2 separate regions of the Homo sapiens genome follow, and region 1 is linked to region 2. The links come from fine-mapping of genetic effects on gene expression. A gene starts in region 2. The other region holds a variant in brackets. All regions are shown on one strand. Distances are between the middles of the regions.

Region 1 (16,435 bases), 130 kb before region 2:
TAGAAAACCAGTATCATCCTGACACCAAAATCTGGCAAAGACAAAACAACAAAAAAGAAAATTACAGGTCAATATCCCTAATGAACATAGAACAAAAATCCTCAACAAAATACCAGCAAACTTAATTCAGCAGCACATCAAAATGTTAATTCACTATGATCAAGTAGGCTTTATTACACAGAATAAGGTTGGCTCAACATATGCAAATGAATAAATGTGATTGGCCATATAAGCAGAATTATTAAAAAAAAAGATCATCTCAATATACACAGAGAAAGCTTTAGATAAAATTCAACATTACTTCATGATAAAAAAAAAAAAAAACCTCAACAAACTAGGCATTGAAGGAACATACCTCAAAATAGAAAGAGCCATCTATGACAAATCCACAGCCAACATAATACTGAATGAACAAAAGCTGGTAGCATTCCCCTTAAGAACTGGAACAAGATAAGGATGCCTACTCTCACCACTTCTATTCAGCATAATACTGGAAGTTCTAGCCAGAGTGATCAGACAAGAGAAATAAATAAAAGACATCTAAATAGGAAAAGAGGAAGTCAAATTATCTCTCTTTGCTGACAGTATGATTCTATACCTAGAAAACCCTTAAGTCTCCACCAAAGTCTCCTAGACCTGATAAACAACTTCAGTAAAGTTTCAGGATAAAAAATCAACATATTTAAGTTAGTAGCATTTCTGTACAACAATAATGTTCAAGCTGAGCATGGAATCAATAATGTAATCCCATTTGTAATACACACACACACAAAAAATACCTAGGGATACATCTAATGAAGGAAATGAAAAATCTCTGCAAGAAGAACTACAAAAAACTACTGAAAGAAATCATAGGCAGTACAAATGAAAAAATATTCCATGCTCATGGATTGGAGGAATCACTATTGTTAAAATGTCCATATGGCCCAAAGCAATCTATAGATTCAGTGCTCTTCTTATCAAACTAGCAATGTCATTTTTCACAGAATTAGAAAAAGCTATTCTAAAATTCATATGAAACAAAAAATAAAAAAAACAGCCTGAATAGCAAAAGCAATCCTAAGCAAAGAGCAAAGCCAGAGGCATCACTTTACTTTAAACTATACTACAAAGCTACAGTAACCAAAAGAATATGGTACTGGTAGAACAATAGACATACAGACCATTGCAACAGATTAGAGAACCAGTAAATAAAGCCACACAGCTACAACCAACTGATCTACAATACTGACAAAAATAAGCAATGGCAAAAAGATTCCTTATTGAATAAATGCTGTCAGAATAACTTGACAACCATATGCAGAAGAAAAAAAGTGGACCCCTATCTATCATAATATACAAAAATTAACTCAAAATATATTAAAGATTTAATGTAAGGCCTCAAACTATAAAAATCTTAGAAGAAAACTTAGGAAATACCATTGTGGATATCAGCCTAAGCAAATAATGTATGACTAAGTCCTCAAAAGCAATTGCAAGAAAAGCAAAAATTGACAAGTAGAACCAAATTAAAATAAACAGCTTCTGTACAGCAAAAGAAACTATCAGTAAATAACATACAGAATGAGAGAAAATATTCAGAAATTATGCATCTAAATTAAGGACTAATATACAGAATCTATAAGGAAATTAAGCAAATCAACAAGAAAAAAAAACCTCATTAGAAAGTGGACAAAGGACATGAACAGACATTATTATTTTTTGAGACAGAGTCTCACTCTGTCACCCAGGCTGGAGTTCAATGGCATAATCATAGCTCACTGCAGCCTCGACCTCCTGGGCTCAAGTGATCCTCCCACCTCAGGTTCCCGAGTAGCTGGGACTACAGGCGTATGCCACCACGCCTAGCTAGGTTTTTTTTTTTTTTTTTTTTTTTTTTTTTTAGAGATGGGGTTTTACCATGTTGTCCATGCTGGTCTCAAACTCCTGGGCTCAAGTCACCTGACTACCTTGGCCTTCGAAAGTGCTGGGATTACAGGCATGCACCACCATGCCTGGCCTATGAACAGATACTTCTCAAAATAAGACATATAAGCATTCAATAAACATAATTAAAAATGCTCAATGAAAACCACAATGCAAATGAAAACCACAATGAGATACTCTCTCACACTAATCAGAATTACTTTTATTAAAAAGTCAAAAAATAGCAGATGTTGGTAAGGCTGCAGAGAAAAGGGAATGCTTATACACTGTTGGTTGCAATCTAAATTAGTTCAGCCAGTGTAGAAAGCAGTTTGATGATTTCTCAAAGAACTAAAAATAGAACTACCATCTGACCTGGCAATCTCACTTATGGGTATATACCCAAAGGAAAATACATCATTCTACCAAAAAGAGGGGTGCACTTGTATGTTCACTGCAACACTTCACAATAATAAAGACATGGAATCAACCTAGGTGCCCATCAGTGGTGGACAGGATAAAGAAAATATGGTACATATACATCATGGAATAGAACAAAATCATGTCCTTACAGAAACACAAATGCCGTTGGAGGTCATTATTCTAACTGAATTAATGCAGAAACAGAAAACCAATATTATGTATTCTCACTTATAAGTGGTGGCTAAATTTTGGGTGCACATGGACATAGACATGGGGACAAGAGATACTACGGACTCCAAACGGAGGGAGGAAGGGAGGGGTGCAAGGGCCGAAAAGCTTCCTATTGGACACTATGTGCACTATCTCCATGACAGGACCAATAGAAGCCCAAACCTCAGCATCAGACAACACACCCTCGTAACAAACCTGCACATGTACCCCCGATATCCAAACTAAAAACGGAAATTAAAAAATTTTTGAGAAGATGGATTTTTGCAAAGGACTATATCTTTGTCTTGTAGCTTTATTGCCTTGAGTTCAGAGAATATGCCCTGATGGTTTCAACCACTTTTAAATTCCATTCTATTCTATTATTTGTGCTCAAATGCACTTGGAAACAATGTATGCTTTATTCATAGGGGACAAATTTCTATTTGTCAATTAAATGAAGCTTGTTAACTTTATTTCCAAATCTTCCTCTAGAATTTATTATGCTTCTTTATTTTACATATGGTTTCTTACTATTCCATTATGTTTCACAGCCAAATTATTAATAAACATTTAAACCATGTTTAAAATGTTCTCATTTCTGTAACTGCTACCGTTTCTTAAAACCATCATCTATCCTTCCAAAATGAAAACCATGACACATGGCTCATTTTGCTTGAGTATGTCATTAAGGGCTTCTAAAAAATTCCAGTGAGTTTCACAGGTAGTTAAAATAATATTTATACACAGTGGAATACTATGCAGCTGTAAAAAAGGATGAGTTCATGTCCTTTTCAGGGACATGGATGAAGCTGGAAACCACCACTATTGCAAGGACAGAAAACCAAACACCGCATGTTCTCACTCATAAGTGGGAGTTGAACAATGAGAACACATGGATACAGGGTGGGGAACATCACACACTGGGGCCTGTTGGGAGGTGGGGAGCTGGGGGAGGGATAGCAGTAGGAGAAATACCTAATGTAAATGACGAGTTGATGGGTGCGGCAAACCCACATGGCACACGTATACCTGTGTAACAAACCTGCACGTTGTGCACATGTATCCTAGAACTTAAAGTATAATAAAAATTAGTATTTATTGTGCTCTAATTCTTAACAGAAAGTTGGCTGGGCATAGAGTTTAGGTTAAAATTATTGTATTTCAGAATCATTTTACATCACAAAGTCTTCTTGTATTTCATGTTTCAGTTGAAATGTTTGATGCCATTCTTATGTAGGTTTTTTTTTCCTCCCAAGCAGGTTTTAAGATTGTCTTTTCATACTTTTACTTTGTACTTATGCCTTCTGAAATTTCTCCAAAAGTTATCTGGATAACTTGTTTTCACTGATCTCGCTTGGTCCTTAGTGATAGATGTTAATTAGAATACTTTCTTCTCGCTTTAGTCTCTTTTTATTCAGTGATGAGTTGATATATATTTTTATTTTGTACCTTGTCTTTTGTGATGTTGGTTTGCCTAAGATTGTAGGACATTCATAATGTCCTACAATATAAATTAATTGCATTTATAACTGAATGGTTAAAGCAAAAAGTCTTCTATTGCTTATTCCTTTTGTAGTTCATCTACTCTCATTTTATGGGGGAGTTCTCAAGAGATAATGGGGGTAGCATCTTATGTTTTTCACCTGATGGATTTAACTGGAAGTCCTCGTGAATTATTCTTTAATACTACTTGTATATTTATATCAGCAAACTTATTAAATATTGGCTTTACAGAAGGTCACACAAGGTGGGCAAGAAATTAATACACTTTTGATACCCCAGTCTCCTCAATATTTTTTTAGTACCATTGTGTCAGGGGTCCCCAGTACCATCCTCAGGTTCAATAATTCACTAGAAGGACTCACAGGACCCAGAAATGCTGTTATATTCAGAGTTACAGTTTTCTGTATTGGCCCAAGTTCTGTCATATAAAGAACTCTTAGGCAGAATATTCTAAGGGTTTAGAAATTATCTCTCAGGAACCAGTAAAGAGCTGGTACTTTCTTTAGAATGTGCAGGTTCAAGCACACCAAGCCTAGTGACTTAACCCTTTATTAAACAACCACACAATGTCCTCACTTCAATTTCCTTTTCACACATATTTTCCTGGACTGGGAAGGGGAGATGTGGTTGTGGTCCATATGCTTGTGAACCCAACCACCACACATTTTCACCCGGAGACCAAAGCTGATGTCATGAAAAACATTCTGGAAGGAGGTTAGTTAACAGTAGGGCTGGCAAAGATGTTAGATCAGATGAGGAATGATCATAACGCAATTAAACTCGAAATCTATAATGAAAAGATAACTAGAATGTTTCCATACATTTGAAAATATTTCTAAATAAAACATGGGTCAAAATAAATAACAGGATGAAAAACAGATATACATTGGACTCTATGATAATAAAAATAATAAATTTCAAAACATTTAAAATGCTAAAAAATTATATTGAGAAATATTTTAGCTTTAAATGCATAAAATAGCCCAAAATAAGGCCAATTATCAGTGATCAAATCATTTATCTAAAGAACTAGAACATAACAACAAATTAAGTAGAATGAAGGAAATAAATACAAGAACAGAAAATAATGAATAGAAAATAAGTATATTTAGGGAAGATTAACGAGCCAAAAGTTAGCTTTTGAAAGGCAAATAAAAATAGCCCTCTTTCAAGACAGAAAAAGGAAAGGGGCAGGAGAGAAAAAAAGGCACGAATAACCATGTCATGGTTGAAAATACAACACCACTTCACATCCTAAAGGCATTGAAAGATAAAAGAATTTTACAAACAACTTTATACCCATAGATTTTAAAATTTGGATTAAATGGACTAGTTCTTTAAAACACAAAACTCATAAACTAGATATGAGAAATACTGACTCTGAATGTCTATGTCTCATTAAGTAAACTGAATCCGTAATTAAAAACCTTACCATAAAGAAAATTTCAGGTGCAGTTGGGTTCACTGGTGAATTCTATTAAACATTTAGGGAAGAAGTAAACGCAATATGTGCAAATATTTCCAAAAATACACAAGGAGGGAATATTCCCCAATTCATAGTTTTTAGACATAATATTTTGGGTACTAAAAGCTGAAAAGGCCATTACAAGAAAGGCAAAATTACAGTTCAATCTCAGTTATGACTTGAGATTTTAATAAATTAGACAAAATGTAAAACTGAATCCAGAAAAATACAATGAATTACAAACATACATGTTTTCACGTTTACATGGTTGATTAAACATATGAAATTTAAACAACTTAACTGCCCATAAGAGAATAAAGAGATAACTTATAGTTGATCTAAATGAATGTAGAAAATGTGATGAAATCAGGCATCCAAACCAGATATGGAAAGGGAATTTTCTTAAAGAGAGCATCTAAAAACAAGACTACAGCAATGGTGTATTTAATAGTGAAATGTTGAAAGCTTTTTAATTAATGTTAGGAATAAGGTACATCATCTCTTCTATTGAACATTGTATTTGAGGTCTTAGTGAAATAAGGAATGAAAAAGAAGGAAAAGGTACAAAGTTTTGGCACAAAGAATTCATTCTGTCATTATCGTTAGACGACATGATATGCAAAATAAATTCCGACAACTACAGATAAATTATTAAAATTTATAAGCATGTTTACTGATGATGATTAATAGAGTGGATACAAGCTCAGGAAACAAAAATAAATTGCCTTTTTTATTTTATTTTCAAGAAGCACATTTTATTTTATTATTTTTGTTTAGGGTTATTCCTCATAGTTCTTTTTTTTTATTATACTTTAAGTTTTAGGGTACATGTGCACAATGGGCAGGTTAGTTACATATGCATACTTGTACCATGTTGGTATGCTGCACCCATTAACTCGTCATTTAACATTAGGTATATCTCCTAATGCTATCCCTCCCCGCTTCTATCCCCCCACCACACCCCACAACAGGCCCTGGTGTGTGATGTTCCCCTTCTTGTGTCCATGTGTTCTCATTGTTCAATTCCAACCTATGAGTGAGAACACGCAGTGTTTGGTTTTTTGTCCTTGCGATAGTTTGCTGAGAATGATGGTTTACAGCTTCATCCATGTCCCTACAAAGGACATGAACTCATCATTTTTTATGGCTGCATAGTATTCCATGGTGTATATGTGCCACATTTTCTTAATCCAGTCTATCATTGTTGGACATGTGGATTGGTTCCAAGTCTTTGCTATTGTGAATAGTGCCGCAATAAACATACGTGTACATGTGTCTTTACAGCAGCATGATTTATAATCCTTTGGGTATATACCCAGTAATGGGATTGCTGGGTCAAATGGTATTTCTAGTTCAAGATCCCTAAGGAATCGCCACACTGACTTCCACAATGGTTGAACTAGTTTACAGTCCCACCAACAGTGTAAAAGTGTTCCTATTTCTCCACATCCTCTCCAGCACCTGTTGTTTCCTGACATTTTAATGATCGCCATTCTAACTGGTGTGAGCTGGTATCTCATAGTGGTTTTGATTTGCATTTCTGTGATGGCCAGTGATGATGAGCATATTTTCATGTGTCTTTTGGCTGCATAAATGTCTTCTTTTGAGAAGTGTCTGTTCATATCCTTCACCCACTTTTTGATGGGGTTGTTTTTTTTTTTCTTGTAAATTTGTTCGAGTTCATTGTAGATTCTGGATATTAGCCCTTTGTCAGATGAGTAGATTGCAAAAATTTTCTCCCATTCTGTAGGTTGACTGTTCACTCTGATGGTAGTTTCTTTTGCTGTGCAGAAGCTCTTTAGTTTAATTAGATCCTATTTGTCAATTTTGGCTTTTGTTGCCATTTCTTTTGGTGTTTTAGACATGAAGTCCCTGCCCATGCCTATGTACTGAATGGCATTGCCTAGGTTTTCTTCCAGGGTTTAAATTGCTTTTTTATATACCAGAAAAAAAACAGGTTAAACAAATAAAAATAGAAAAAACCTCACACCTGCCTTAAAAATATGAAATACCTTGTAATACACTTACCAAAAAGTCCAATAGTTTTCTGCAGAAAAAGATAAAAATATTATTGAGCAAAGTTAAGGAAAGTCTAAATAAATAGAGCAATACTCCATGTTTATGAGTTGGAAGACTCAATATTGTG[A/C]AGATATTTCCCAGACTTATCTACAGGCTAAATATAATTACGGTCAGATTCCAACTTGACAGACTGATTCTAATTTTTACTTGGACATGCAAAGTGCCAAGAATAACCAAAATTCTTTTGATAAAAAGCAAAGTAGAAACATTTGCTCTCCTGGATAGGAAAACTTATGAGAATGCAACTGAACTAGTGTCCAGGATGGACTGGACTAGTGTAGCATTTGTGCAGGGTAAATAAACCAGTGGAGCTGCACAGAGAGCCCAGAAACTGACTCATGCATATAGATATTTGCTTTATGTATTGATTTTTTTAAACTTTTTTTAAGGTTCAGGGGTACATGTGCAGGTTTGTTATATAGGTAAATTGTGTATCATGGGGATTTGGTATACAGATTATCTTGTCACCCAGGTAATAGGCATAGTACCCAGCAGGCAGTTTTTCAATCTGATTCTTTTCATTTGCCTTCCTACACCACTGCCAGGCATGCTCTTTGTCCTAAAATGTTGTCCTCTATAGAAAGAAATGAAACCTGATGTATTCACTAAGAGACTTAAATGTCTGACAGAGTTTGGGATGAATTAGCTGCATGGACACACACGCACACACACACACACACACACACACACACAGAGCAAACAAAAACAATATAGTTCATTCCTCTATTCTTCATTCAACAAACATTTACAGAAAGCAATTATTTGTACCAGAGTACCTGGTACTCTGGGTTCTGGGAATCTGTCAGTGAACCAAACAGGCAAAAATTATTTACTCTCATGGAGCTTATATTTCTTGTGTGTGAAGACAGACAATGAGCAAAATAAATTATACACACATGCACACATATACACACATATACAGAAGTATACATATAATACACATATGTAATGCAATGGGAAGAAATAAGCAGGAAAGGGAGTTAAGTAGTGGGGAGTTAAATAATATATTAAATAGGGAGGTCAGGAAAGGCATTATGAGAGAGTGACTTTTGAATAAGGACCTGGAGAAATGAGGTAAGGAAGCAAGCCATGCAGTTAATTGGGGAAAATTCCAAACAGAGGAGCAAGCACAGATGCCCTGAGGTGAGAGAGTAGCCTTCTGCATTTGAGGAAGGGCAAGGCAGGTGTAGCTGGAGTATAGTGAGAAACAAAGAGATTGAAAATGATGAGGTCAGAGAGGCTGTGGTGGATCAGATCATGTAAACTATGAAAGGATTTTTGCTTGTGCTCTGAGTGGGAATGGAATTCATTACAAAGATTGAAGTAGAAAAGTAGCACAACACAGCTCAAGTAGCACTATTACAGGATAGCCCACAGCAGTGTTAAGAATAGTCTGGGGAGATCAGGGCCATCAGTTAGAAGGTTACTTCAGTGAACCTGGTGAGAGGTGACATGGCTTGTTCCAAAGAAAGCAGTGCAGGTGGTGAGAGGTCATCACATTTTGAAGATAAAGCAATAGGATTTTCTAATGGAAGAAGTGATAGAGAAGAGTCAAGGACAATTCCAGAATTTTTTGCCTGAGCAAGTGGAGAGATGGAATTGCCATTAACACCCATTTCCAAGTGGAGGGGGAGAAGTACTGGACTATGGGAGAGATCAAGAACTCAGTTTCACATACATTAATTGTGAGATGCCTATTAGACATCCAAATGCAGATGCTGAGTAGCCAATTAGATATAAGAGAATGGAAATCAGGGGAAGATTCAGGTTAGAGATACAAATTACCAACTCCTGGGAGGAAAAAAGAATGTAACCACAGAGACATACATGGTTCAGCTATACATCATGTTTACATAACAATAATGATACAAACATGAATAATTATCTCCACAAGTGTATAACGATTTTGAGAAAATGGGAGAGGGAAGTAAGGTGTGAGGGTGTGTGTGTGTGTGTGTGTGTGTGTGTGTGGCTAGTGAATTTAAGAGCTAAATCTTCATCTTCCATAATAAAATTCAATAGAAATATAAAATTAAAAATCAAGTCAAATCTAACATTTTATATAAAATATGGAAGCATATTTAAAAAGAAACAAAGTAGCTGAAAGTATTTCTGAAGACAGGGAATTGAGGTTAGAAGTCTAACCCAAAAGATGACTTCACTTGTATTTAAAAACTCGTGCAGCCTAGACATATAGTGCAAGGGACTGAAGCTGAATTCAAGTCTTGACCCCTCATTTAATCATTCTGCAACGTGAAATAAACTATGTAATTTCTCAGTTTCTCAATTTTCTGTTCGCATTCTCCTCCTTTGGAAAAGGAAACTAATATCTACAGCATAAGGTTGATAAAAAGGCTAAATGAGAAAATGTCTTTATGCAGTAAATACTGAACATGACGTAGCTGTTATTACACTTGATTACACATTTGTCACTTCCACCAGTCTGGGTACTTTTCAAGGGGAAGGCCCACTTACCCACCTCTCCCCAGTGACTGCAACTTAGGAGTGGCCCAGTCCCTGTTTCTTTCACTAATGAATTGATGTGCAAATGAAGGAAAGTTTCGAGGGTCCTTGGATATGTGTTGCACCCTCAGTAGCCCAGCTTCCTGGGGTCTTTGGATCAAATGTCCAGTGAGCCACCGGGCTCTCTGGGGACATCTGGTTTCCCTTCCCTCCTTCCCAGCCACCATATTTCCTAGTACTACTGGCTAACTGAGAAATCCTGTACTTACAGAGCCTCTTTCTAAAGCAAAAACCATTGTGAGAGGCAACAGCAAGAAACCATTTATTTAGCAAGGGGAGAGGAAATCTTAATTGTAACATTTCTCTCAAGTGTCCTTAATCTTCACCTGTAATAATCACACTGATGGTCCAAGCCGGGTCCACCTATAACATGGACGACGTTAATAGTTTGATCATCCTATTTTCTCAGAAATGCCAACTCTATTCCTGATATTTTCCCCAGACATGACAAGATTGGCAAAAAGTCCTTCTTAAGCGATGGATCCTACTAATAATTAGCATTCACTGTTAAAGTAACTGTTGACTGCACTTTACTTATAGATATTAACATGATTAATTGAATTGGAAGTGTGCCTGGAGGATGACAATTTCTGAGCTGGTGCTGGGGCTCCGGCAAGCTCCGCAGCCTCACAGGGCCATGGGATGGGAAGGGTCTGGGATCAGCCCACTCCTTTTCTCTTTCTGAATTACTCCCTCAAATGCTTCCAGGTCTAATTACCTAGGACTAGCCCCAATTTGAAAATAATTTTCTTTGGCCAATGATATGTTCAGCTAGGAATGGACAAGATAACAACATCACATTATGTGCAAAGCTCCTTACGGTCAACGAAAAGCATTCACATCGCCATCATATCTGATCTTCTCCAGTTCCCTGGTTTAACATGCCATTTATATGTGAATGACTCCAACATTTATATCTCTTCCATGCACCATAGACTCATATATACAAGTGTTTTCTTATTTAGTGATCAAATAAGCAACTCACTATTAATATTTTGAAAATGGAGCTAATTTTTCCTCCCTTGCTCACAGCCTTCCTACCTAAGTTGCCTGAAGGCAAGATGAATCTCAGTTTGGAAAAAAAAAATTCCTCTCAGTGGCTAAAGCTAAAAATCTGGTAGTCATCATATCTCTATTGCCCCTCTTCTCTCAGCTTCCCACATCTGCAAGTCATGACATTTATACTTCCAAAAATATCTAGAATTTGTCCAATTTTCTCCTTTTCCATAGTGCTACCCTATCTTAAGATACCACCATCTCTCTCACATGCGCTACTGTAGAACAATGAAGGCAAAAGGAGAAGTGAGACCATTGGGCAGGATGGCTGCTATGACAAGCTAATATCATAGGATCCTATGTCATACACGAGTTGCACAGCATAGAAGGGAGCCTCAGTTGCTTGTTTACATATCCTCATGCCTACACTGCAACATGACTCTGAGTCTGGGCTTCCCAGTCTGGGCTGATGCACTGACACACAGGTGAGTGCCCACAAAAGGCTTCAGAAAAGGCTTGGTTCTGCTTGTGGAGATGATGAGACATTATAGTTCCTTCCTTCCCCACATGATTGGGATTCCCCTCCTCCAAAGGCTTCTGGAGTACCAGTGGCTGGAAGGCTCCTATCTCATATCCACCACGTAGGAAGCTGCTTGTATCCTAGAGCTGCAGTGGCAGATGGGATTGATAATAACAATAACACAAAGAAGAATTTAATGACAGTAAGTGTAATAATTGCTCAATCTCAGTAACCTCTGTGCCTTCCTGTAAAAAAAGAGACAGCTCTAGCTTGTCTTGAATGACATGATGTCCAGCTTTGCACTGCTGGGATTTGAGTCTTTCACATTTCAAAACACGTCCCAAACAGTCAGGGAAGGTGTGGTACATTTGGCAGACACTCTCTTCTGTGACAAACTTAGCCAACAATATCTCACTGAGGGCTTACCAGGTACTCTGCTTTTCTCAGTACTAGAGGCAACTGGCTTCTTTCTGCTCCATAGGGGCCCACTGTCTAGGATGACAGGGCAGAGCTTCACCACAGGGCAGTGGCCAAGGACCCTAACTGGCAGAGAGGGAAACCATATAGGTAAATGTAAAGAGCTCAGTCCTTTTCTTGGAAAAGTAAGCTCAGTGCTCATCTCATGCATGCTACTGGGATTGATTAAAAAGTATGGTTTCTGAACCCCTAAAAATCATTGTGTCCCAATAGATTCATTAAAAGCAGATGATACCAGACCAATATCACCTCCTTTTTTTTAACTTAGGCTATTGGACTCACATATTAGGGAGCTGTTGTAGGCACAGTAAATGTGGACCTTGACACAACATCTGGTAAGCTCTCTCCTGATACCCTTATGGATGATCTGGATAGATTTAGACCAGATGATAGTAAAATGAGGTGAATTTATAATCTAGTTTGACAACCATAGCTAAAGCATGCCACGAATGATTCAACAACCTAAGTATTATCCAGTTCTGTAATTTTATCAATTGTTTAGAAGGAGAAATAGAATTTCGGTATGGCACACTAGGCATAATAAGTACACTGGAGTACAGAATCAAGATCCATAAAGATTCTGACAGATAGGTAAGATCAATAAGGCCTAACAATATAAATGTATCAAGATAAATTATCTGAGGGCCTAAAAAGTCAATGATACAACATCTGAAGTAGATGCAACCTAATGCATGTGAAAATAAAAGGCTTTATGGTTTAGTCTTATTTTGAATCAAAATGCGATATGGCTACCAGAAACTCATTTTGCTTTAGGCTGTATCAGTAGAGGTATAGTCTGGACAGAAAGGGATGTGCACCAGCCATAACCCACTAGAGACATTAATTCTTTTCTGAATATCTTAATTTTATTTTTTTATTTTCTGTTTTTATTTTTTGCTGTGCTACTTATATATTTTTTATTTTTGTAAATTTTGGTGGGTGCAAAGTAGGTATATATTCTTATGGGGTGCCTGAGAGGTTTTGATACAGGAATGCAATGTGAAATAAGCACATCATGGAAAATGAGGTATCCATCCCCTCAAATAAGGTATCCATCCCCTTATCCTTTGAGTCACAAATAATCCAATTATACTTTTTAAGTTATTTAAAAATGTACATTAAGTTATTGACTATAGTCACCCTATGGTGCTATCGAATAGTAGGTCTTATTCATTCTAATTTTTTTGTGCCCATTACCCATCCCCACACTCCCCCAGCCCCTCACTACCCTTCCCACCTTTCCACCCTTCCACTTTCTATCTCCATGAGTTCAAGTATTTTGATTTTTAGATCCCACAAATAAGAACATATGATGTTTGTCTTTCTGTGCCTGGCTTAATTCACTGAACATAATGATCCCCAGTTCCATCTGTGTTGTTGCAAATGACAGGATCTCATTCCTTTTTATGGCTGAGTAGTACTCCATTGTGTATATGTACCACATTTTCTTTATCCATTCATCTCTCGATAGACACTTAGGTTGTTTCCAAATCTTAGCTATTATAAACAGTGCTGCAACAAACATAAGAGTGCAGATATCTCTTTAATATTTTGAGTTACTTTCTTTTGGGTATATACCCAGCAGTGGGACTGCTGGATCATATGGTAGCTCAATTTTTAGCTTTTTGAAGAACCTCCAAACTGCTCTCCATAGTGGTTATACTAACTTACATTCCCATCAACAGTGCACAAGCATTCCCTTTTCTCCACATCCTTGCCAGCATTTGTTATTGCCTGCCTTTTGGATGGTAATCTCAATTTTAGAGATATGTAAGCAGATGAAAGACAGTTGAGTAACCACCATGAGAGAGGGTCAGGATTACATAAGGAGTAATGAGGAACTATTAAGATTTAAATTAAACATTAAAGAAACACAAGATTCCTGTCAGCACAAATTTGGAGGGGTGTCAGTCACACAGAAGAGAAACTAAACTTCTTCATGATTCCAATGATTAGAACGAAGACCAACAAGGAGAAGACACAAGAAGATTTAGAATATTCTTCTCTATCACAGTCTAAAACCACAATCTGTTTGGAGTATGCATTGTATCTGAGGGGAAGATACGGAGACTGAGAGACCAGAAATGATGAGGGCTGTTGAATAATAATGCTTAATTCAGCATCCTAGGAACACATGTACTTTAAAAGGGGATATGGGAAAAAGGAGGTGAAGCCTTTCAATCCTTGGTGCACCTGACACAGGAATTTGGGGTACTGGAAACCTCTTATTTTTTCTAACATGCTTTCTTAATAGATACTTTGAAATTCAAACATGATTTTTAAAACTCTGCCTATTTCCCCAGGGAGCATGTCTAGTCAAGGAGAGTCCTTGGCTAAAACAAAGACAGCAGTTTTCAAAGTTAAAGGGCTACAGAAAGGCTTTAGCATTTAATTTGATGTTAAGAACCTATTCTGAAAAGACTTTTTTATTTTCATTTTTTTACAAATCTACCAATACTCAATAAGAAAAAACCCAAAAGTAACTGGAGATGAAAAATTGTTTTTTATTTAAAAGCTGTGGGAATATCAAAGCATCCTTAGAACTGAGTGTTGTTTGCTAGCTCTGACTGCCACAGTGTGTTTTATCGGCTTTTGAAGAAAAGAACACATTAAGATGAGCTGGAAATAATTTTGAATTGACCTTGCATTCTCAGCATCTTCGTCATCCTGAAATTTCCCATCAAAACTAAGAATTCCTGCAGTTTATGGGAGACGGGATGATGAGATTCTCTAGTAAAGATGCCTTCTAAAGAGAAGCATGGCAGCAAGTGAATTAAGCCAACATTCTCAGTAGTATGAACAATCATAAAGAAAAAGGCAATATTTTATTCTACCATGGGTGGAGACTTGCTCCATGGATACTCATAGGACATAGGATTTTTTTTCTTTTTTTTTTTTAAATGTTTCCCTGGAGAGGAGCACTATGCACCTCCCTCATCCCTCTTCCATCTCCATCAACTGTTCCTCCATCACAATTACCATGTAACTCTTAGAGCTTAGTACTTGGGTCACCAAGTCATGTTCATTCTAACTGTAAAATGTGTGCTGATTACAACTCTTTTCCTTCAGTCTCTGAAAGATTACTCAGGAGCAATTTACCTCTTCCAATGCATCCTCTGTGTAAACACAGATCTGATTATTTCACTCCTAGCTTAAATCGTTCCATGGATATTGGGTGCTCTTAGGTTAAATTCCAAATTCCTTAGCATATTATATAAAAAATGACTTTTCCAGCAGTTCTTTCTCCTAACATACTCAATTCTCCAATCAGGCTAAACTATTCTTAACCCCCACACCCACCTTCTGACTCATCGCAAACCTTCTCTTTCATTTCTTTGTGTGCTGTTTCTTCCTGAATAACTCCTGCTCACTTCTCTGCTGGTAATTTTTTTTTTTTTTGTATCTTTGAAGACCCAGACCTCTCTGTGCAATCTTCAGGGCCTCTCCTAGCCTGTGCTCTCTGCTTTGGTAATTCTCTGCCTATGTTCCTATTACCACATGGAATTTGATATATTTGCCACTCTGAGATGCTGAAGGCAGGAGCTATATCTTCTTCCTTTTGGCACTTTTACCTTGGGCTATGGCCTTTTTATAGAGAAGAATCCAGAGTCAGAGGTTAATTAACTTGTCCAAGCTCACATAGCTAGTTAGTGCTGAAGCCATGCCCCAACCAGGCAGTCTGACTACAGAGCCTATACCATTCCCAAGTGGGGAGCCCATGCATAGACTAAGAAGCTCTTAGTGGCTAGTAAAGAGGGAAGTGGCCATATTCTCTTCTCTTGTGTGGCGGAGATATGAGGGAAACTGGAGGAGCTGGACTGGGAATTAAGTGTCTCCAGATTCTTCCCTTTTCCATGCAATGTTTCCACCCTTGTGGAAGGGCCAAGAGATGGCCTTGCCTCTCACCTTTTATCAGCAGGAACTTATTTTTGCGTTTGAAGCTGGTGGGAAAAAGAAAAAAAAATAAAGAAAGAGAAGCTACCTTGACTGAATCCTGCTTGTGAAATAGGGCAAATGATGCTTTAGTAAAAGAGGATCTGCCTTTCCTCCAAGCACAGGCATTGAAGAACACTTCCCTCTGGGTCCAGTGCAATTTCCTAAAACTCTTGAGGGAAACAAAAGGCTTTGTTCCAATAAAAGGTAGCTTAGGAATAATCAAGACTTCTCAGATGTGCTTCAAATAGAGACAATAATAATTCTCTCTCACTCTCTTTCTAGTTAAATAAACTGATATATGTAAAGTGTTTAGCACAGTGTCTGAAATACATATGTTAACTAATTCTCTGGGTTGTACCCTCACCTCCTAGAACAGTGCCTGGCATAGAGTGGGTCCA
Region 2 (16,435 bases):
TGCAAGTAAAAGTCACTTTTTTAAAATGGCTTATAGAGGCCTACAATCAGTCTGCCATCACCTCTCTGACCTCATCTACTACTACTCTCTTTTTGCCAACCTCACTACAGTCATACTAACCCTTGGCTAATATCTGAACACGTCAAGCATGCTCCTGCCTTGAGACCTTTGTACCCGCCGCTCTCCTGCCTGGAACGCTCTTCCCCCTGCTACGTGTGTATCTTGCTCCCACATTTCCTTCTGACCTTTACTCATTTGTCAACTTCTCAGTGGTGCCAGTTTAGTCTTTATGTCTTGATCTCTTTCCATGCCTTGTTTTTTCCCTTAGCACTTACTACTATCTAACATACAATATAATTTATGTACCTATTATCATTTTCCCAAAATGTAAGTTTCATGAGGGCAAACTTTTAATTTTCTGTTTCATTCCCTACTGTATGTACAATACTGTGTCTAGGTATCTACATTTGTACATACCTAGGATAGAGCCTGGTACTTAGTAGATGCTCAATAAATATATGGTGAGCAAATAACTGGCATCCCCTACTATAACCTCTCCAATCAATGTTTATCCTGTCTCCAGAATACCTAATTAAGGGATAAAACTCACCTGAATTTTCAGCGTAAACTCTTTTAATGGTTCTGCAGTGCTACAGCTGATACAAACTAAGATGTCTTCAATAGGCAGGCATGTCCCAAAAATGTGATAAGCAAAGTGTACATGTATGTGGTGGGGACGAGGAGGCAGATATTAGAAATGGACAGCCTGTGACCCACTTAAGGGCATTCAATTCAATTATTTTTTAAAATTATGCCTGTTAATTGGCAGACCCTGTACACACAATAAAGAACTATCTCTACAGCGTGGCTTGGTGGGCACTAGGCAGGCCTGCCATGCGTATTCCCTCTTGGGCCCTATAACTTCAGAGAAAACAGACTGTGCACATCCACAGACTGGATAGTTACAATGCAGCTGAACACACTGCTTTTTCATTACTAAATAACCAGGCAAGGAAGCAAGATGTCACTGTTGGCATAGTCAGGAATTATATCTGGAATCCAGATGTTTGAACCAGATGACTAAACTTGCTAAAGGCAGTATTTACAACTATTCAAGGTAATTACAGTTGGGTTTCAGGGTGATATGTTGGGGATCTAAAATGGGTAAACTTCCATTCATTGATTCCAATCTGTTAGGACCTTACCTTGGACAGAAAGAACATATTTGCCAGTAACCTGAGTATATTTTCCATAAGGAACCAGGAAGACTTCAGAAGCTGCATTCATGGAACTGAAATCTCCTGGTGTGCTTTGCTTTGGGCTTATGATATAAATTGTACTTCTTTCAAGATTTCTGTGTCAGAGTGCTCCAGTTAGTCCTCAGTGGGTTTTTGGCAATGGCATACAGGGGCTTTCGTGATCTGATTTGACCATTGTTTACTAGAGCAGATCCATCTCTCAACATTGCCAACACACACTCAACTTACTGTTACCCAGGATCCATCCTCTTCTGTGTTAGGACCTTTGTAAATTCCTAGAATGCTCTTCCCACCAACTAGTTCCAGACAAACTCTTCTGCCCAAGAATAGACTTCTGTAGGAAGCCTCTGCAGATCCACTCAAGTCAGCTAATTACTTCTCTCCTCTTTTTTCTGTACTGTATCCAGTAGATATCTCCCTTCTTGATTTTATTAATTGCCATTATTGTTTTATGTCAATTCCATAGAGGCAGTAAGCATGTCTAATGTATCTTTGAATGACAGATGCCCAACCTTGTACATAGCACTTAAGGGGCCCTCAATAAATGTTTTTGGAATTTAACTTAATTATAACTAGAAAAGATTGATCAATTCAACGTGGTTAAGTAACAGCTGCACAAGGGTAGGGTGGGGTAGGTTGGAGTGGGAAAGAAAACATAAAGAAAAAGAGATTCAAATTATAACAACTTTTTCATATTTCATATAAATAAATGCAGCATTTTGCATTGGAAAAGAGTGTTACAACGAATCCCTATTTATTGAACCACCCCTGAAATTTCAAAAGACACTTTAATATAATGGGTTGATTATAGTCAGACAACCTGAGCTCATTCACTATACAATATTCCTTCTGTGAGCTAATTTGACAGAATATTTACATTCTAATTAATGGAAATTGGTAGAAAAAAACATTAAGATTCTCAAAAAATAAACTGGTACATGATAGAGAATGTGGTAGAGAACACAAAAAATTCACTTAAGAGTAAATATAAGAAGGTTCAAAACAAAAAATATTCAGTCTTACCAACAAAAAAAACACAAATTGAAACAACTAAGCAGCTGTTTAAACCATGTTAAATTAGCAACCTTTTGTTCACATTATACACCTAATGCTAGCGGATTTACTGTTGACATGTAGCAGGACTAACTAACATAGATCTACCAGAAAGCAATTAGGGCTCACTGTTTATAATTTATCATGAAAAAATTTTCCCAAAAGGAAACAGGGGACTATAAATACAAGACATTATTCACACTAAAAAAAAATTACAAGCTAGAATAGCCTCAAAAGAATGGTTAAATAAAAAAGGTATACCCATTCTTGGAATATACATAGTCATCACAACAATAATAATTACGTACTAATAAGTGTTAACAATGGGAAAATTATAATAATAGAAATAATGGCTAGTATTTATTGAGCATTTACTACGTGTAATTACTATGAGCATATACCAGGTACTATGGTATTTCGCATGCATTGCGAGATAGGTACTAGTATAGGGTTGTCAGCATCACAAATAAAAATATAGGATGCCCAGTTCTACTTCAATTTCAGATAAACAACAGATGATTGTTTTGTATAATTATGTGCCATGCAATATTCCCTGTCGTTTATCTGAAATTCAAATTGAACTGGCAGCCTGTATTTTATCTGGGTAACTAGTAACCCAGATACTAGTAATACATTTTACTGATGAGAAAATGAGGACACAGAGGTTAAATAACTTGTCCAGGAACACACAGCTAATAAGAGGTAATAAAATGCTAAGTTTACAAAAAAGTAGAAAGTAAATTTAGCCTACAAATAATTACAAATGGTAAAACATATACATGTTTGTGGACCACGGCTGAAAGGAAACATGGGCAGGTGATACTACCAACAACATCAATTTATTGATCATTTATTTGAGCATTTACTCTGGGCACAATGTTACAGCAATCTTCCACTCCCATTTTATAGATGAATAAAATGAAGAGTTAAATATTTTACTCAAGGTCACTAAGGTAGTAAGTGCAGTCAGATTCTAACTCCAAAGTCCTTGCTTATTCCACTTTGTCATCTTGATGTCCTAGAAGATTTTTTTTTCTTTCAAGTGCAGTTCTATCAATGTTGATTTAAAGTTTTTGTGTGATAAAATACATGTGCAAGGCCATATGAAGATTTCAAAGAGATCTGCAAAGCCTGGTCCTCAGGATTTGATGTGGTCTAAAGCCCTTCCTAGAGCCCACCAAATAAACATTTGAAAGAAAAGGAAGTCGTGATGCACATTTATTGCTCCAAGATTGCAGTGAAAACTGAAAACTTCTCCACAAATGGTGATTTTATTCAAACTTCATTCAGAAAATAGAAATACATACTCCATACTTGTCCTTTTAAAAGTGAGATTGCTCCCCCATTTATGCCTCTCACTAAGCTCCTCCACTTTCTCTATACACTTTGGAGTGTGAACTTGTTAGTTCCCTCAAGTCAACCTGTTAGGAAGAGATTATGAATGTTTTTAAGCCAACCATATGGGAAATTGCACTTGCAGCACAAACATAAAAGTGCCTCAATGCTACTTCAGTGAAAGCAACATCTATGCTCTATACATAATAGAAAATTTGAGGATGATTTCCTTTAGGTGTCAGTTTAATTTTTCCTTGAGAGTTTATCCCACATCAAAAAGTTTGTGCTTTTGATTGTTTATTTTGAAAGAGGCAGCTGGCCATAGGGCTGCCTGTGATGCCTTTACTACAATTTGCTTTTGTTTTCCCCTCTTGATAATTACCTCATGACTAAACCACTCACTGGTCCATGTAGAGGAGTCCCGCAGAGATGAAAACACACTTGTTTAAATAAAATATTTATGAAGGAGCCCTGAAATGTCACCGAAGTAAATGCAAATTAGATCTTCACATATTGTGCATCCAATATGCCACTCATTCCTTAGAAGACTCTTTTTCCTGATTGCAATTAACATTAATTTAAAAAAATTAATCCCATTGTGCATAATCACACCAAGGTCTATTCATAAACATCCAGTGTTTCAAGACTGATTCTCTTTTGACTACCTTAGAAAAATTTGAATCAAGGCTAATATTTAATCTTGATGATTATTTTGGAGATTTTTTTCATAGAAACTATATTTAATTATTATTTTACATGTACATTTTCTAATAAGTGACTTCATTATAATTTAACATAGGGTGACATTTGTGAAGGTTCTATATTCTGACCTTTTAATGACACACTATTTAGACAAGATTTTTCTTGATTTGTTTGTTTTTTCCCCTCTCAGATTGGTGGACATAATAGAGCCTTATGATATGTTCAATGAGCCCTTAAAAGAAAAATGTAGGATAACGTTGGGAAAAGAAAGTTAAGAATCAGTTGATATGGGCACTAGCTGTACAGGGTAACAGTCAAGGTTCCTAGTTTTTGATACTATCTTTCCTAATTTTGCAAGAAACAAATGTGAGCTGAGCTGAGAAGGGTTAGGCGGATGCATTCTTTGCCCAATGGTCTCAAAGGTTGTTCTCTACTTGGCTGCACATTAGAATCAATAGATGAACTTTAAAAATACTGATACCAGGCCCATTTCCCAGAGACTGTGATTTAAAACTGGTCTAGGGTGCAGCCCAGTCATTGGTAGTTTTTGTTGTTGCTGTTGTTTGTTTTTTCTTTGTTTGTTTGTTCCAGCTCCCTAAGTATTCCTAATGTGCAGCCAAAGTTGAAAACCATGACCTAGAAAAAGCTTTTCTTGAATAGAGTAATATTTACATGGAGAGAAGAATCACTAATCATGAGTCTTAAGGCTCTGCTTCATACTCTGACCTGCTGAACCTTTTCTAAACATTGGGTACAGACACAGAGAACATGCAGAAAAATCTCCAGAATATGGAGTTGGAACATGAATGGAAAACCAGTATCCTGGATAACAGAATTCATAATCAAAAATACTAAGCTGAATCTTTACAACTACATAGAATGTGACCTACACTTAGGGATTAAATCCATCATACAAGTACAGAAGAGAGAAAGTAGGTCTAAGGGTGGCTCTTATGAAAAACACCTAGAAAATTTTCATTGACAATAACTCCTCAGTTTTCAGTACATGTGATGTGACTACCTAAGAAGCTACTTTCACTTAGACCCAATTCTTCTTTTAAATGGACTCCATGGCCCTGGGCTAGTTTACTTCTCTGGACTTCAGTTTACTCATATATATCAATCACTTTTAGCCATGGTTCTTGAACTTTAATGTGCCTACAACTCTCACCTGAGGATCCTGTTAATATACAGATTCATATTCAGTGGGTCTGGGACATAACTGAGATCTCCAATTCTAACAAGCTCCCAGCAGCTGCTGCTGCTGCTGGAACACAGATAAGTGCTTAAAAGACTTGTGAGGACTAGTGAAATGACCTACATAAAGTGCTTGGCACAGACATGGTTGGCACCCTACAGAAGAAAAGACTTAAAAAGAAAATGATAAAAACATGTTTAAGACCTAGTCATTACATGATCCAATCCTCCTTTCTGTTCCTTGGAAAGAGTGGATCTAGATAAGTTAGGCTAGTTTACCTCCTAATAGCCAAAGGTGTATGATGGAGAAGAGAGATAAGACTAATGCTTTTTGACCAAAAAAAGTATAATCAAGATCCATGGGTAGAAATTTAAGAGACCTTTTAATTCCCTACAAGGAAAACCTTCTAACAATACATACTGTTCTATAACCAATTAATCTTCTTGACAGCGAAGTCTCCAGTTAAAAAATACGAGCATAGAGCAATTGACATTAAAGAGGATAGTCATACCTCAGGTCACTGTTCAACTGTAAAACAGCTTGGCTATCTAAAGAGGCATCACACACTTAATGTGTTACAAAAAGTTAAAATAAAATAAAAAATAAACCTCATGATTTCCCTCCTCACCCCTACCTTCTTCCTGAAGACTTCTACTTGTACATGGAATTTTTTAGGTCAAAAAGCCTTTGAAGCATCCTTAATTGCCCTTCTCTCACCTTTCACATCTCTTCCTTCAATAAATACTTGCGGCTGTACCTGCAAATTGCATTCATAATCCAATTACTTCTCATCACCTCCATTACCACTATCCCTGTTGAAGTCACTATCACCTCTGTCTGGATTTCTGAAATAGCTTCCTAAGTGGTTTCTCTGACTTCACCTTTGCTCTTCAACATAGCAGTCAAAGTGTTGTCACTTCTCTGCTCAGCACCTTCTAATGGCTTCCTATCTCATTCAGAGTAAAAACCAAAGTCTTTATAATGGTTTACAAGACTCTGCATGATCCACCCTCTCTAACTCTTGACCATACACGTCTTATCACTCTCCATCTGTTTCACACCTCTCCAGCCACCTCTGAAGTCACCATTTCTAGAATCATATCAATAATGCTACCACTTCAGGGCCTTTGCGCTTGCTGTTCCCTCTGCCTTAAAGGCTAGTCTCTGAGGCCTGCAAGTTTATGTCCCACATCATTAACATATAAAACACCATAAAGGCAACCAACAGAGCATTCTAATTGCTTTCTATGGACAAAAGTGCTCACACTCAGCACTTTCCTTTCCACAAGTTGGTACAGATGACAGACTGGGTGAGGCACTTCAGTTCCAACTGTGACTTAGGCTTATTTTTTTAAACCACAATTGCATCAAGTCCTCTGTGAACACCAAGTCAGGGAAATCTGGGTGCGGTACTCCCCCAACAGGGCACTATAACTACCTGGACAAAAAAGAACCTTTCTGATGGCTCAGGCCCGCTGGTCTGTGCCCTAGTCTTTCCACACCTCTGAAAAAATGAGTAAATTTCCTAGATGCAGGGTCACTTTGCTGTCCACAGGAAATTATATCTTTTTTCTCCTTTTATAACCAAAGTCCTTAGTTCAGCTTGAGAAAACCTAGCTATCACAGGGTGGCCGTGAATGGACAATAACAGAGAAAGCTGGGACATGGCATTCAGGTGGATTCCTTTCCAGAAAAAGAAGTCATCCATTTACCGAGATGACTCTCTCTAGGAACCCATGTCTCAGGGCTGCTGTGCATGGTTGTTCTGGTTCACACTATCAACAGCAGGGACATTATTCACACGGCGTTGTGTGGTGCAGCTTTTCTACTACTCAGCTTTTAGGGTTCCGAGATTAAAGACACTCTTGCTTCAGAGGGATGAAGACAAATGCATCTGATGTAAGAATTAATGTCGGCAAGGCAAGGAAGGAGGGAAATGAAGGGAGATTTGGAAATGAAGGGAGAAGTGTCCTGAAGGAGAGGGTGCACTTTGGATGTAATCTTTGGCCTCATTTCCTCTCACCTTGCACTCGAAAACCCCCACCCCTGTCCTCATGAGCTGGCTACTTTCCAACAAAAACCAAAGAGCCACAGGGGCATGGGGCTACTTCAAAACCCTTGTGTCCTAGTTTAAGAAAGCAGAGCACTGCTATCAGGAACTCAGAGCAGCAAGGTCGACTCCTATCTCTAGCTATTCCTCCGCCAAGGAATCAGATTTCCTCTTGTAAGAAGCCTACTTAGTGACTCTTTCTCAGGGGTTGCCTGGTGTAGGGGCTGAAGAGAATCTGAGAACACAGGATCCAGCTCCCGGATTAAAAGGAGTAGAAGCAGAAAACTGGCCAAAAAGATGTGATTCAGAGATAGGCCTCATCCATCTTCTCTTGTAAAGCCAAAGACAACTGCTTATGTGGGATAACAAGGAGAACTCGTGGTCTGGTCACAGGCAAGGAAGTGAGATGTTTCAATACTAATACTTGCTTTGGGCAAAGCATGCAAAATAATTGTCTTGCTTCTGCTGCTTAAGGACGAACTTCCCCGACTTAAGACATCTTCCTGGGACTCCAGCTTGTGAGATAAGGGACTGTGGTTTATTCAGCACATCACATCCAGCAATGAGATGCACATAGGCTGGACATTAAACCTCCCTGGAAACCACTGGGATCAGTATTTCTCTACCCAATTATCCACTTTGAAGTAATATATCAATGATCATTCAATAAACTTAGTTAATATAACCACCGGCAATGGAAAACAATATTTTTTTCTTTTTCAATAGGAAAAAAAAGCCTCTGGTAGGGAAAATCTGATATAAACTTTAAAATTTTAGCAGATGACTTCACCCCACACGACCATCTTGAATATATCAAGGATATGCTATTTAAGTCTGGCTCAGTGTGACACTCTTTATAAATCAAATAATTCTTTAATTTATCTTTTGGATAAATGGATTTTTATATAATAAATTGTTTTCAATTCGTACATCATAATTTGCAAGGCAATAGCTCATTTCCAATATTTATACATAGCAATATCAAGAGAAAGGCCATTTTCTCATCCCATTTTTAACAATCCAACCACAATATGCTGTTTTGGTAAGTACTTAGGTTGGGAGAATATTCGAGAAAACTATTTCTCCAGGTGAGAAACATCTCAAGCAAACATTGGAAGGAATGCATTTTCCAGTAGCCAGTAACGGATGAGACGACCTGGGAGACCCAGGGACCTCAGGAAAAGCAAATGGCTCCACTAAAACTCCCTCCTCCAACCTTAATTGGTCAAATGCCAAAATAAATGAACTTTCCAAAGTTAAGAGCTTTGCAACTTTCACTAGGAGTAACTACAGGTGCACAAGCCAGGACCGACGAGTCTACGAACCCCATCGTGGCCGGCGGTAGTCGCTGGTCGAGCCTAGCGCCCAGGCCCAGGCCACCTCCATGCCGTGCGACCCGCCGGGAACGGGTTCAGGCCCGTCTGCCCAAGGCCAGAAGCACCCTGTCCCCGGCCCAACGCCGGATCGCGTCCCGCCCTTCTCACCCCATACCAAGGAAAGGAACTAGACGCTTGGGAGAAAGGATGAGCAGCACCCGGTGGGATTCGGCCCCAACCCGGGGCCGTCCCCAACTCCCAACTTCCCAGAGTTTCCTTCGGCCTCGTCCCCCTTCCCACGGCTCCGAGGCCGCCGCGGCCTCCCCTCGCTCTGAGTGCAGATAGCCCGGGAAGTGGAGAGCGTAGCTCGGAGCTAGGGAGCCGCCCCCAGGAGCCTTGGCGATGGGAGCGCAGGTGGCGGGCGTGGTCCCTCCAACCCTGCCCTAGCCGACCCGGAGTCGGCCTCCGTGCAGTAGCCACCGCCCGGGTCCCCGCCTGGTTACAGCATCAGGCCACAGTGCGCTGGTTCTTGATCACTCTCCTGGCTCGGTGGCCGCCCCCCGCCCTCTCCCAGTCCGCGTCGCTGTTCTGCCTCAGGCCCCGGTGCGGCCCCAAGTCCCAGCCCAGGGCCCTTAGGTCCCTCCAGGCGGCGGTGGCGGCACTCACCTGGGTCGCGGAGCCGGGGTCTGGCACGGTCCCGCAGGTGGTAAATGAAATCCTGGCAGCTGTCGTGCTCCAGGGCCCCACGGGCACAGAGCTCGGCCAGCAGCTGCAGCGCCTGGTGACAGAGCGCGTCCCTGGCCCCGGGCATCGCCCCCCCGCATCCTCGGACCGCGCCGGGCAGGCGGGCGCAGGAGACAGCCCTCCGCCTGCCAGCTCAGAGCCGCCGCCTCCGGGCCGTCCGCGCTCACCGCCAGGGACCTGCCGAGAAACGGTGCGAGCCTGAGCCCGAGCCCCAGACCCAGCCGGCCCGGCCTCCCACCGGTTGCATGCAGCTCTTCGCCAGCCGGTCGGTCAGGCTTTCTCTCTCTCCCGCCCGGTCCCTCCGTCCCTCCCCAGACACCGAGGAGAGGCGGTGCCGCACAGCCCAGAGCGCCTCTCTGCTTGCGCTCCGCCCGCTACTCGCGGCCGCCGGGGGGCGGGGCCAGGTCAGGAGTGCGCGCCGCAGGGTAGGATAGCGGCGGCCCCAGACCGGGGACCTGGGGTACTCCCCGGCTCCTGGCCGAGCGCGAGACTTGGCTTGGGACCTCGCGCCCAGAGCGGCCGCGCCCTGGCTTGGGGAGTGTGAGTGAGTGCGCGCTCCGGGCGCTTTCGCTACTCCACCCCTCATCCCTGATGCAAACCAAGCACCCGCTCCCACCGCCGAGTGTGTCCAAAGCACGTTCTTGGATGCCTAGTGCGAAGGTTACAATCTGGGCACACCCGCCAGATGCGCAGAACCGAGTCCCTGCTTCGAACTTGGAAAGAGCCGCCTGGGTTTGAACCATGGGCCTATGGGTGTCAGATGCCCAAATGCAGGGTTTGGGTCCAAGATTCGCCAACAAAGGAAGGATTTCCCAAGCACAGGCCCTTTTCGACCACTGTGGTGATTTGGATGGAGAAGGTGGAGGCTCTAGGTCAGAACTAAGATCAAATAAATAAACGATTCCTGGGAAAGACCCTGAGGCTTACCTGGGCTTCGTGGGTCCCTTAGTTTTCTAAGCAACCGTTTGGAAATCCAAACATTGCCAAAGTGTCTTCAGCACCCAAGGAGGAGTATCACAGAATCTTGGAGAGTTGGAAGGAACCTCAGGGCACCTCTCATCCACCCATCTTTTCAGCCTTTCAAGCAGTAAAGCCTAGAAATAACCACGAAGTACTCTGGGTGTGTGTGTGTGTGTGTGTGTGTGTGTGTGTGTCACTGTGCCACAAGCCTTTTAGGTACATAATCTCATTTAATTCTGTACATAGCCCAACAAGGTCTGTGTAATTGTTATCCTCATTTTACCAATGAGAAACTGGGGCCTGGGGACTCACAAAGGTGTTACTTGCTCAAATTCATACATGATGAAGGTAGCTTTGATTTTCTCTCTTTCTTTTTTCTTTTTTCCTTCTTTTTCTTTTGTCTTTTTTGTAATACTGGTGTTCAGGCCCCCACTCTAGAGCAATTAGAGTAGGATCTCTAGAACTGGTAACTATCATTCTTAGCCATGAGGTTGTGCCGTCTCTACGGACATATCACAACAATTCATATTTGCACAGAAAGATAATTTGGGATCCTATAGAATGCTCACGCAACAGGCAACCTTTGAAATCCTGCTGTGAATGGTACTAGGGTTTCAGGGAACTTACATGGGAATAGCAGAGAAAATGCAAAGTTGTAAAGGTAAAGATGCCTCCAGAGAGTTGCAAAGAGACAAACAGAGGGAGGAGAAACCAGCTTTAAGGGAGCCTGTAGGGGAGGTTGAGCAGATGCTGTTTCTTCAAAGGGGGGAACCCCTAGAGAAGAAGAAAAAGGCCATGAACAGAGAAGGTGACACCAGAGATAGTGTGATGCTGGGGGGGGGTGGCGGGGGGGACATATAGTAATGGTGAGAAGGTATGTGTGTTGAAGCACATGGAAATATTACCCTAATGCCATCATGTCAGAGAGGAACTGAAAGCAACAAGTTCAGTTAAAAAATGACTTTGATAAACCAGGCAAGAGATGATGAAGGCCTAAACCAGGCCAAAGGCATTAGCTGATTGCTAGAAACATCCAAATTTGAAAAACATTTCAAGTATTAAGTGACAAGATTGCAACCAATGGAATAAGAAAGAAGTGAAAGGCACAAACGTTTCAAAACGTTACCTGGGTCATATGTGCTCACACCCTAATAACACTTAGAAATGCAAGCCTAGAGTTTAGGAGAGAGTGAAGACTGGCAATCATCATTGGAAAGGTAGAAACTGAGTTGCCACATGGGATGGTTCCTTCAAGAAAGAAGAGTTGAAGAAATGAAAGAGGAGATTGGAAGGTAGCAATGAGAACAGGAGGAAAGATTGTACAGAGGGGAGTCATAGGGATCACGGGAGGAGGAGTGTTTGGTAGAGGAGCGAGCAACATCAACTGTAAACTTTCAAATATAGTTTAAAGAGAAAAAACTAAAAAGTGTCCTTTGGATAAAGTAGACAGTAAGACATTCAAGATTTAGACAGACTAGTTACTATGCAACCAACCTTGTGCAAGTTAACATTTTTGTGCCTAGGGTTTCTCATCTTATCTCAAAGATAACGTGTATCTTTGGGCTGTTACAAAGATTACATAAAGCAATATATTTAAGTGCTTGTAATAGTGCTGCCACATAGTATGGGCTCAACCAATATGTGTTTTTGCTGTTTCTGTTATGTTTCTACTACAATGTACGAGGTGCTAAACACACTTTCTTAATCTATTACTTACAACATCCCAAAGTGGTTGATGCTATATTTCCTATTTTACAGGCAAAGAAAGTAAAATCAGGTGGTTAAACAATTTGTTCAAGGACAAATTGGTAGACTGTTTCCAAAGACAGCCATAGCTATCCCTCCAATTCCATGTGTCCTTTTGGAGTGTGATTTTACCACTCTTCCCATCAAGAAGTCAAGTCTGTTCCCCTCTGCTTGAATTTGGGCCTGCCTTGTGACTCACTTTATTCAACAGAATGTGTAGAAGTGAAATTCTGAGCTGAGTCTAGACTTGAAAAGATCTTGCAACTTTTACAGGATATCTTGCTGGAGAGGGGTCCAGAAGAATGAGAAACAATGTGGAGAAAGAATATCATACAGAAGGGAAGTGAGATACTGCTATAGAGTGAACTGTAAATTCTTATGTTGAAGCCCTAATTCCCGATGTCACTGTATTTGGAGATAGGACTTAATTAAGAGTAAATGAGGTCATAAAGGTAGAGCCCTGATCCAATAGGATTAGTTTCCTTATAAGAATCATCAAACCAGCTGGCTGTAAGTATTTGGGTTTATTTCTGGGTTCTCTATTCTGTTCCATTGGTCTGTATACCTATTTTTATACAACTACCATGCTGTTTTGGTGACTATGGTCTTATAGTATAGTTTGAAATCAGGTAATGTGATGCCTCCAGATTTGCTCTTTTTGCTTAGTCTTGCTTTGGCTATGTGGGCTCTTTTTTGGTTCCATATGAATTTTAGAATTGTTTTTTGTAATTTTATGAAGAATGATGGTGGTATTTTGATGGGAATTGTGTTGAATTTGTAGATTGCTTTTGGCAGTATAGTCATTTTCACAATATTAATTCTATCCATCTGTGAGCATGGGACATGTTTCCATTTGTTTGTGTCATCTCTGATCTCTTTCAGCAGTGTTTTGCAGTCTTCCTTGTAGAGGTCTTTCACCTCCTTGTTTAGGTATATTCCTAAGTATTTTATTTGGAAAGGACACCCTTTTCAACAAATGGTGCTGCAATAATTGGCTAGCCACATGTAGGAGAATGAAACTGGATCCTCATCTCTCACCTTATACAAAAATCAACTCAAGATGGATTAAGGACTTAAATCTAAGAGCTGAAACTATAAAAATTCTGGAAGATAACATTGTAAAAACTCTTCTAGACATTGGCTTAGGCAAGGATTTCGTGACCAAGAACCCAAAAACAAATGCAATAAAAACAAAGATAGATACATTTCTGGGACTTAATTAAACTAAAGAGCTTTTGCACAGGAAAAAAAAAACAGCAGAGTAAACAGACAACTCACAGAGTGGGAGAAAAATCTTCACAATCTATACATCTGACAAAGGACTAATATCCAGAATCTACAACGAACTCAAACAAATCAACACGAAAAAAACAAACAATCCCATCAAAAAGTGGGATAAGGACATGGATAGACAATTCTCAAAAGAAGATATACAAATGGCCAACAAACATGAAAAAATGGTCAACATACTAATGAACAGGGAAATTGAAATCAAAAGCACAATGCGATACCACCTTACTCCTGCAAGAATGACCATAATCAAAAAATCAAAAAACAGTAGATGTTGGTGTGGATGCAGTGAACAAGGAACAATTCTACATTGCTGATGGGAATGTAAACTGGTACAACCACTATGGAAAACAGTGTGGAGATGCCTTAAAGAACTAAAAGTAGAACTACCATTTGATGCAGCTGTCCCACTACTGGGTATCTACCCAGAGCAAAAGAGGTCATTATACGAAAAAGATACTTGCACATGTATGTATATAGCAGCACAATTCACAATTGCAAAAACACAGAACCGACCCAAATGTCCATCAATCAATGAGTGGATAAAGAAACTGTGATATATATATATATATACACACATATATACGTATATATACATATGTATATATATATATCACGTATATATACACGTATATATACACGTATATATGTATATATACGTATATATACACATATATATGTATATGTGTATATATGTGTATATACATGTATACGTGTATATATATGTATATATGTGTGTATATATGTATATATGTGTATATATATGTGTGTGTATATATATATGTATATATATATGATGGAATACTACTCAGCCATAAAAAGGAATGAATTAACGGCATTCATAGTGACCTGGATGAGACTGGAGGCTATTATTCTAAGTGGAGTAACTCAGGAATGGAAAACCAAACATCTTATGTTCTCACTCACAAGCAGAGCTAAGCTGTGAGGATGCAAAGACATAAGAATGACACAATGGACTTTGGGGACTCAGGGGAAAGGGTGGGAAGGGGGCAGGAGATAAAAGACTTCAAATAGGGTGCAGCGTATAGTGCTTGGGTGATGGATGCACCAATATCTCACAAATCATCTCTAAAGAATTTAATCATGTAACCAAACACCACCTGTTCCCCAATAACCTATAGAAATAAAAAATAATTTTTAAAAAGAGTCATCAAAGAGTTTGCTTTCTCTCTGCCATGTGAGGACACAGTGAGAAGGCAGCTCTCTGCAAGCCAGGAAGAAAGCCCTCACTAGAAATGGAATTGGCTGCAACCTTGAGCTTGGACTTCCCAGACTTCTGACTGTGAGAAAATAAATTTCTATTGTTTAAGCCACCCAGTATATGCTATTTTGTTACAGTAGCCCTGGAAGACTAAAATAGATGCCTCAGTCAACAGCCAGCCCAAGACCTCACACATGTGAGTGAGGCCATGGACCTCTCGAACTTGGACCTTCCAGCCCACAAATGAGCACAGCAGACAATAAGTGAAGCAGAGGTGAACCATCCCCATTTACCAAATTTCTCACCCACAAAATCATGAGCAATAAAATGGTGGTTGTTTTAAGTCATAGAGTTTGGGAGCAACCTTTTAATGCAGCAGTAGACATCTGAAATAGGCAAAAAACTGGTAAATGATAGAAACAGGACTGGAATCCACATCTTTGTGGCTCCAAAGCCTCTGTTCTTCTGCAATTATAGTAGAGTGGTGAGGGTGGAACCAGCTGAACACAGGATTAAAAAGTACATGGAAATTGAAGAAGTAGAGTTAGCTGAAATATGTTACCTTTCCCCAACTATTTGTTCTTTCATTCATTGAACAAATATGTATTCTTCTATGATTCAGAAAGCATGACAGAGGAAGTCCCCTGTGACTCAGGAAGCCTTCCAGGTCCTGGGTAATATATAGAGAAATAAACAATGATCCTTGCTCTCTAAGGCAGTGCTTCTCAGTCTTGTACTTGTCGTGGCATAGATAGAAAGTGAACTTTTTACAGCACATGGGGGTAAGGGACTAGGCCACTGGTGGCCAGCAGGGACTGTGGCAGAAGGAATCAAAGTCTCAGCCCAGGTATTACCCATTCTGTGGCACATCAAGCTTCCCTGGTGCCCTGGTTAGGAAGTTTTGCTGTTTAGACCTACCAAGTAGAAGTAAAAGTAAATCTTTTGAGAGAAGGACAAAGAGAAGATGGTAACTGAAAAAAAAAAGTGCATAGAAGAAAAGCTGTTTGAAGATAGGAGCGACTTCAGAATGTTTTTATCAATGTTTCCCAAAGTAAGGTTCACTTGCCTTCTTTTCTGAAATTGCCTGGATTTCTTATGAAAATGCTGGTTCCTCGGATTCACTCAGACCTACACAATTATTTCGTAAAGAGCATCCCAGATGCTATGGTTGGACAAAAATACATGTTGAAATTTAATTGCCATTTTAACAGTATTAAAAGGTAGAATGTTGATGAGATGATTAGGCCATGAGGGCTCCACTTGCATGGGTAGAATTATGCTGTTATAAAAGGGTGAGTTTGGCCCCCTTTTGTCTCTTTGCCCTTCCACCATCTACGATGTGATGATACAGTAAGAAGGCCCTTGCCAGATGCCAGTGCCTTGATCTTAGACTTCCCAGACTCCAGAATTATAAGACAATAAATGTTTTTTCTTTTTAAATTACCTAATCTCAGGTATCCTGTTACAGCAGTACAAACAGAATAAGACACTGGGTAATGCTTCTGAACAATGAAATTTGAGAACCTCCAGTTTATATGCTGACGAAAAAAGCCTTTGGTG

Direction of the effects. Alleles are on the strand shown, and positions count from the first base shown. SD is a standard deviation of normalised expression in the study named.
As copies of C replace A in region 1, the expression in coronary artery of the gene that starts at base 10,007 in region 2 goes up (small effect, 0.40 SD a copy in GTEx).

What was found. PIP is the estimated chance that this variant, and not a neighbour inherited with it, causes the effect.
Region 1: its variant is the best candidate, but not a certain one, in a credible set for the expression of SYT9 in coronary artery (GTEx, PIP 0.63).

What each region holds. Positions count from the first base shown.
Region 1 is chr11:7,377,184-7,393,618 of GRCh38, reverse strand. The region is part of intron 3 of SYT9 (synaptotagmin 9); the gene reads right to left. Among named protein-coding and RNA genes, the nearest start is that of SYT9-AS1, 80 kb to the left of the region's middle. The variant A/C (reference allele first, on the strand shown) is at 7,653.
Region 2 is chr11:7,245,476-7,261,910 of GRCh38, reverse strand. It overlaps SYT9 (synaptotagmin 9), which reads right to left and starts at 10,007. Exons shown (of 7, transcript NM_175733.4): 1 at 9,580-10,007. The coding sequence starts at 9,724. RefSeq lists a silencer at 9,975-10,114.